Homo sapiens: one gene and its partner. The protein of the gene in region 2 purifies or fractionates together with the protein of the main gene of each other region. This does not show direct contact. Each region holds a gene or a part of one and is shown on either strand. Other genes may lie near its edges.

Region 1 (3,467 bases), on a different chromosome or scaffold from region 2:
GCTGTAGTTTTTAAAAAACCTATTTGTTTCCTTAAGAATCCTAGGAGATCACCCACACATGAGAAGAATACGATGGGAGCACAAGAGGCCCACATATATGTGAAGACTGTAGCAGGAAGCGAGGAACCTGTGCATGACCGTTACCGTCCTACTATAGAAATGGAAAGAAGGAGGGGATTGTGGTGGCTTGTGCCCAGACTGAGCCTGGAATGATGCAGCTCAGTCAAGGAGCAGCAGACCTGGCACTGGAACAGGGTTGAAAACCCAGGGTTTTGTACTTGGAGAGGAAAGATGCCAAGCTGCTTCTTAATCAATCCAAATTTCATTTACAGCTCTGGAACACTTTGGGGCTGATTTGTCTCTTTAGGGGACATCCCCAACATGGTTAATTCCAACTCTCAGATCTTGTGCTTTAGTTAGTACATGTGACTCACCAGATGGGGTCCTTAGATCCTATTCCTGCTCCCAGTGGGAATTTGCTTTTCTTTGTCATTTTGGGAAAGGGGCTTGGTTTCTGAGTGTCTTGCCTTCTCATCTTTTTTTTTCATATCCTTTTTCTCAAAAAAGCCATCAGATCTGACTTTCATGGAAGTGTTGCTGAGGTCAGCCTGGTGCAAGTTGGGATACAAATGAAACTTATGCAGGATGTGTGAGAGGAAGCAGTTAATTGTTTCTGAATATCTCAGGGTAGGAACCATGTGGAGCCACACATTCCCTGACCACAGGGAAGCACCTGGCTCAATCATGTCACACAGCAGTGGAAAGAATACGGACTCTTAAGTCACACCTACCACTGAGCAGCTGTACGACTTTGGAGAAGTTGTTTAACATTTTCAAGCCTCAGTTTTTGCTTTTTTAAAGGAGGGGAAATATTTGCCTCATGTCATAATTGAAAAGATTAAATAAGAAATAAAGGGAAGTGTCTGCTACTTAGTTGCCAGTCAAAATGTTAGTTCTCTCTCTCTACCACCTTCTTCCTACCTCTTCCCATATTGCTTGCCTGATAAAACAGCTAATCACCAGCATTTGTTCCCCATAGTCACAGGGCCACACAAGGGAACATTTAGGACAAACTTTCTCCATGGCCTATGATCCAAATTGTTATCTAAAGATGATTCTAGGTGTTGCTGGTAGTATGTGAATCTTCCAATCTAGGTGTGATCGTGTCCTCATATGAATCAGGAAAAGGCAGTTTCTTACAAGTTCCGAATTCCAAATACAGAGACTGGTGGTGTTACATTTAACCTTAAAGATGTTAATGTTGATGGAAATTCATGTTTCATATTAAAACAACACTTTGTCTTTACAATGAAACATTTTGCTTAATTTTTAAAGTAAGACATTATGATACCTCTGATGGCAGTTCCTCAAATAACTTTAACTTTTGTGCTTTAGGGATAGTTGTTAAAGTTACAACTTCTTTTATTTTATTTTTTAAAGGCTTCAGATTAAACAAGAGCCCTTAAGCCCACGCATAGCATTGCCGCTTCAGCTTGCTGAGGACTGTCTCCAAGGAGGCCAAATGGAAAAGGAGAGGCTACTTCAAGTGGTGTTGGCCCATTGAGCCTATTGGGCAAACTATAACCAGGTTGCCTTATTTTGGGTGGATTACTCCAGGAGAGGCCACCCTCCAGCTTTCTCTTATCCCAGTAACTCCTCTTCCCATTTTCCAATCCATCCCCAGCCTTTTTTTTTTTTCTTCTGTACTCTTCTTTTGCCTTCAATATGAGTTTCATTTCCTCTGTGTCTTTGGGCAGACTTCCTTCTAACATGTGTCAGCTACCCTACCACACACCTGGCCTAGGAGACACATCATTCATTGCTCCTACTTGTGTCTGTAATCAGAGAGTATTTAAGGAGGGCAGTTCTGCGACGGACTGTGTGTGTGTTGAAAGTAAAGATGGGGGGCCGCGGGGAAGGCAAGAGTTTTTCCAAAAGATTATTAGAAATGAGGGCTGTATCTACTCTGTGGAGTAGAACCAAGTCTACTTGGAGAAAAGAACCAAGTCCTTGGATATCTAGGGGAAAGCTGTTTGGCAGAAAGAAAAATCAAGAGGACCCAAGGGGATGGAGACAGGACCACAGGAATGGGCCAAGGAGCAACGTGCCTGCCATTCAGCCAGCTTGGGACAGGCTTTCACTTTCACTCCCATGAGGAGGCTTCCAGGCAGCCTGGTTCCCCCATGTATAGCCATTGCCCTCTAGCAGGCCAGGCCTCCCAGTGGGAAGGCCTGGGTCCAGGGCATCTTAAGTTCATCCAGCAGCTCCATGAGCCACACAGATATCCTAGAAAATATTCCTTTCTCACACAGGGCTTCTGATTACTCAGAAACATGCCCCTCTTCCCTGAATAACCAAGAACATGTTCTATGAACCCAATCTCTGCCACATGTCAATACCTGCTCTTCAAAGCCCCTTTTGAAACTCAGTTTTGTGCCAAGTCCTCTGGATCTAATTACCTTAAACAAGCAGATTTAGCCATTTTTAAACAGACATTCCCAGTCATCCTGGTGCTTGTACTTCTCCTACATGTCATGAAGGACCTTGGATTTACTGAGAACTCAGCCGTGGCCTTGGCTTTGATACTTATAGGTGTCAGCCCTTGGGCCGATTGTTGATCATCCAGAGCCTCAGTTCTGTACTTGTAAAGTGGAGACAGCAGTTCTCATCCTCCATCCTTTTAGCCCATGGGGTGGTTGTAAGGCTGGATTGAAATATGCATGTGACTAAGCCATGTAGCTATAAAGTGAGGGATGACTTGTGTTTTGGATCACTTATTTTAATTCTACTTATAATCCACGGCTTAGAATATTTAAACATTGTTTCTATTAAACTAGAAAGGTTCAGCATTTCTGTCATTTACTTCTGCTATGATACACAAGAACTTATGTTGGAATGAAGTGAAAAGTAAAATGGCCATTCTTATGAACCTACAAAATGTTTGTGGCTTTTCTTTGCCTATATTAGAGAACATTGGCTCTGTCCCTGGAACCAAGATTATCCCAGGGATATTCCCGATATTGGCACTTTCTCTGCCAGGCTAGAAGACATTCAGTCTTTCATGGAGGGCAGCTCTGTGTGGTAAGCAAAATGATGAGACCCAAAGTCAGAAGCTCTGCTTCCCTAACCCAGGGCTGCTGGTAAGTTAAGTGACCTTAGTCAGGTTGCACGATGTGTGTGGGTCTCATTTCCTCCTGTATCATCTGGTGTTTGAATTGGTTTATCTATAAAGTTACATCCATCCAGTCCAAACATTCTACTTTGATTTTCCCCAAACCCTGCAAAGCACTCCTTCTGCCTGCCTGTTCCTCACTCCCATCAGCACAGCCTTCTATACCCTCTATGATTCTTCTCAGTTCCTGACTTTGCTGGTGGAGACAGATACTCACTTCTTCTTTATTTTGCCAAGAAATAACAATTATTAGTTTTGCTTAAGGCGTTTTTCCCTGCAACATTGCGATGTTAAT
Region 2 (4,286 bases):
TTGGCAGCCCTGGGAGAACCGCATGGTTGGGAATGAGAGCAGCAGTCCCCAGAATTAAATGGCTGTTAGTCCCAGATATTTTCAATCACTCCGATTGTAATGACTCCACAGCAGAAATCACACATAGGAATTCATATCTACTGTTAACTTCTTAGGTTCTAGATTTGGGGCTCTTATATCGTCAAATTTTTCTACTAACTCTGAGAATATCTCTATGTGTGCAAAGTCCACAGAGTAAAATATATGGTCACCTCTTTGGGAAACGGGGGTAGAGGTAGAGAGAGGAGGTGTGAAAAAGCAATTGTGCACAGTGGAGGTCAAGTTTACCAGGAAATTGTAGTAGGATTACCAGATAGTGCTGAGATAGGGTAATCATGAATACGTAGAGAATCCAATTGCCTTGTTGTATGACTTCTTCTCTAGCAGCATTTGGCTGCTGGGGTGCAAATACTGGAAAAACTAAGTTGTTTCATTCAAAACAGACTTGGGGATTTTTCTAAATTTTTCTATGTATGGTAAAAAGCAGATAAGGGACAGAGTTGAGGGTACTGGTATGAGTGCTACTGCTAGTAATATGATGTTTGTGGAATCTCAGCTGGAAACAAAGACATGAAGAGAGGCTTATGGATTGGGAGAAAGATAGGTGAGAGAACTGGGAGTCTCATTTAATGTAAAAACTATGGTTGGGGCGATAGTTGAACAAACAAGTATGTATTTATCTGCAGACACAAATAGTAAGTATATACATTCCTTTATTAGGGTAGCCCTTGCACTTATAAAGAAACCTTCCTCAAAAAGGAAATGTACAAAATGATGAAGATACCATAGTTTATTTCAACATACTAAGCCAAAAAAATAAGAAAACAACTAATTTATTTGAAAAAAAAACAAATTCTGTACATGCAGGCTTGGCTTGATTGACCATAATGTATTTCAGCAAAAAAAATTTAGATACACCACACATAATAAAGCTTTCTATGTACACAGTAAATAGTAAATAACTTTGCTAAATGGCCAGACATTTGAAAAAATGAAAACACAGTTGTAAAACAAAGTATGTAAGAATATTGTGACCTTATTTAACTGTACAAAAAGCAATCATTCTCTCCAGCCTTCCATCTTCACTTACATTTTTTTAAACAAGATTAAGCCCCAAATTGAAGGGATTAAATCCTTTCTTCCTAATGCCTCGGGAATATGAGATTCTCTTTCAAATCTTTAACTTTTTACAAAGGAGCAGAGCACTTAAAGGGAAATGGTGGGAAACAAAGAGATTTCAATTCTGTGCCATTCATCCAGATTCTGCTGGGGAAGATTTCCCAAGTCCACTACCAATTCACTCAACTTGGTTTAAAAACATAATACCTGATTGTAGGATTAATTTGGCTTTTATTTAGCCCATCTGCAGCTTTATCATTAAAAATCAGCTCCTGACATTAGCCCTTAGTTCAGTATCTACAAATGAAATTTGGGAATTCTATGACAGTGATGTTAGCATATTTAAATGTAAAATGCAAAATGATTAATTTTTAAATATGCAAACTGCTACATTTTCTCAATAATCAATTCATGCACAAATAAAAAATGGCAATAGAAAAAGCAGAAAAATATGGATGTTTCTAAATGAGACAATGAGACAATTATAAAAATTTCATGTATTAATATCAAGACAAGGCTGGGGCCAGCTTAGTTGTAAGAAAAACTATTATTGTATATAATTGGACAGCAAAACCCAGTCCTGTCTAAAAGCAATGGATCAAACTGTCTTCTCAAGTCCTTCCTGGCCATATTTCTATGTGATACAATGAAACATTTTTAATAAATGCAATCTATCATAGAACTGCAAGTTTTTATATTCCTAATGAACTTAACTTTATTATAGCAATGATTTAAATACATGTACTGTAAAAAAGAGAAAACAGTTGTAAACACACTCTTAATTTTTTTCTTTATCTGCAAGATAATATTTTTAAAAGATTACACAACTTCTTGATTCTTTAAGAACTAAGAACCAAAGTATTGAACATAATAAATAAATGTGCAACCTGGAGGCCTGGAAAAAGAGATAGAATACCAAATAACAAACCAGTGCATTAAAAATCCAGTATGTCAGTATTAAGACTTCTTCATCCAAATCCAGTTAGGTTTATTGCTATTATAAATAAGCTTCACATTAAGGCATCTGTCATTACCTATGAAAAAGATTTGGATTCAAAACAAAGGAATATACACTGTACAATTTTTTTTCTTTCATTCTGATGTCATTACAGATATTATCAGTTTTAAATGTTAAGTTTTTGTATGGCAATATATAAATATCTTTAAACATATTACCTGAATACAGTTCAAATGTCTCTCTATATTTTGATACTTTAATATATATATTTAAAGTATATTCAATTAATGAGGAAATAGACAAAAGCAAATCAACATAGATGGTAAAGGACTAAATCTGAGACATTACAACCTCTAAAAAAAAATACTGTACAGACAGTGACGATGAGCAGATCTTGGCCAAGTCATTTAACTTCCCTGAGCCTCATTCTTTCCATCTGTAATATTTCAATAACAGTTGCTCTGTCAAGCTGTTTTGAGATCAAATGAGATGATGTAAAAACACTTGGCAAACTGAAGCAATGCAAAAATTAATGGTATTATCATAGGCCAAAAGATCTCAAGTTTCTGACAGTGTATCTAACAAATAAAGTTATGGCCTGCTCCTTTTGCATTCACTTGAGAACTCCCAGTTTTGATTAGATTGTTATGGAAAGAATGGAGCCAAAATTTATGCAAAGAGAAAATCTCTAAGTTTTAGCATCCAGAATTGTATAAAGTACAGTTTGTTGGGAATGGGAAACAACTGCTTGAAGGGGTATACAGAATACCAAATAATAATGTATTAAAAATTCAGTATTTCAGTATTAAGACTTCTTCATCCAAAGACAGGTCTAACTCTAACTAGGCTCAGGCTACCTCTTGATACTTACTAAAAATAAATAGGGGCAGACTTCTCAAAAACCTTGGTTCCCGGCCTTTCATCAGACTCTTCTAGAGAAACCTCCTTTTCCCTCACCATTGGCTATCATGTTGCATAGTCACATTAAAAGAACTATCTCTTATAACAGCTCAAGAGTTTTAAAACCATAAAGAAACACAGCCTAAGTCAATTGCTGGTACACTATTCAGGCTGGTATAAATTTGAAATGATTCAATAATCCCTACCATGTTCTCCCTTTCTCAGTCCATAAGCCCTTCCTCTATGTATAAATGGTTCTCGGCCAGCTTTTTCCAATCTTTGTTCTGAGGAACACTAGCTGGGTGAGATGTTAACAGGTAAAAAACATCTGTGTTAAGTATGTTGGGAATATGCAGGGCGAGATAAATTTATGTACCACTGAACTGCTCAGTCTTTGATGTACTGACTGTACTTGCTAAAGAAGAATGAAGTGTTCAGCATTTCCCAAACTCATCTGACCACAGAATCCCCTTTTTCCCCCAAAAAAATATCTAGAGGAGCTAATAGCTCTTAGAATATTCTTTGGAAAATGCTATTCTAGCCTGATTCTAAACATTCCAGAGCTAAATCTGGCAATAGTTATGTTTTTAATTTCTGAAGAAGAATCATTTTTCTTATAAGGTCAACTACCATGATAACCTCCTGGTTTCCACTCCATAAGTAGGCTTCCCAAAGCAACTAACAACTAAATTTTCTTCACTACATACTAAGGAATTCAAAGAACTTATTCTTGCGTGAATGAGAATTATGTTCTTTTTAAGGAGATACTTATATTCTTCCCCTAAGCATTAAAAATACAAAGATCTAATTCTAGATCCTAGGACCTAGAATCACAATTATTTTAAGGAAATGAGAGTATTTTATTACAACATCATTGCAATTAATATTATCAATGAATGATAATTAGTAGTGGTGCTAACAGTAGTAGTGTTGGTTAAGCATTTATTTTTGCATCCTAATCCTAATATCCACTCTATGAATTTAGGACCTACTATTACTCCCATTTTAAAGATAAGTACACCGAGGTTTACCAAGATTAACTGACTTGCCAAGGGTCACACACTGGAGTAAGGGCAGAACCTTAGACTCATGTCTGACCCCTCGCCCCATGCTCTTAACCACATAATGCCATCTTTTATTTCAGTGACAAGACAAAAGCATTTAGGTCACACTCTTGTTGTTAAACAGGAAAATTATATAAATGCAAATTGTTTAGAATAGGTTTTGGATTTCCTTTTGAGCAAACCCCCAGTCCTTTAAAGGATATACT

What was found.
Region 1: the proteins of RRM2B (region 2) and OPALIN purify together in Homo sapiens (co-immunoprecipitation; one large-scale study listed by IntAct). This does not show direct contact.

Annotation. Positions count from the first base shown.
Region 1 is NC_000010.11:96,342,687-96,346,153, reverse strand, and holds the end of OPALIN (opalin), read left to right. Parts: intron 1-36; coding exon 37-213; 3' UTR 214-2,933; downstream 2,934-3,467. UniProt on the Homo sapiens protein: Central nervous system-specific myelin protein that increase myelin genes expression during oligodendrocyte differentiation. Promotes oligodendrocyte terminal differentiation.
Region 2 is NC_000008.11:102,203,768-102,208,053, forward strand, and holds the end of RRM2B (ribonucleoside-diphosphate reductase subunit M2 B), read right to left. Parts: 3' UTR 735-4,286; downstream 1-734.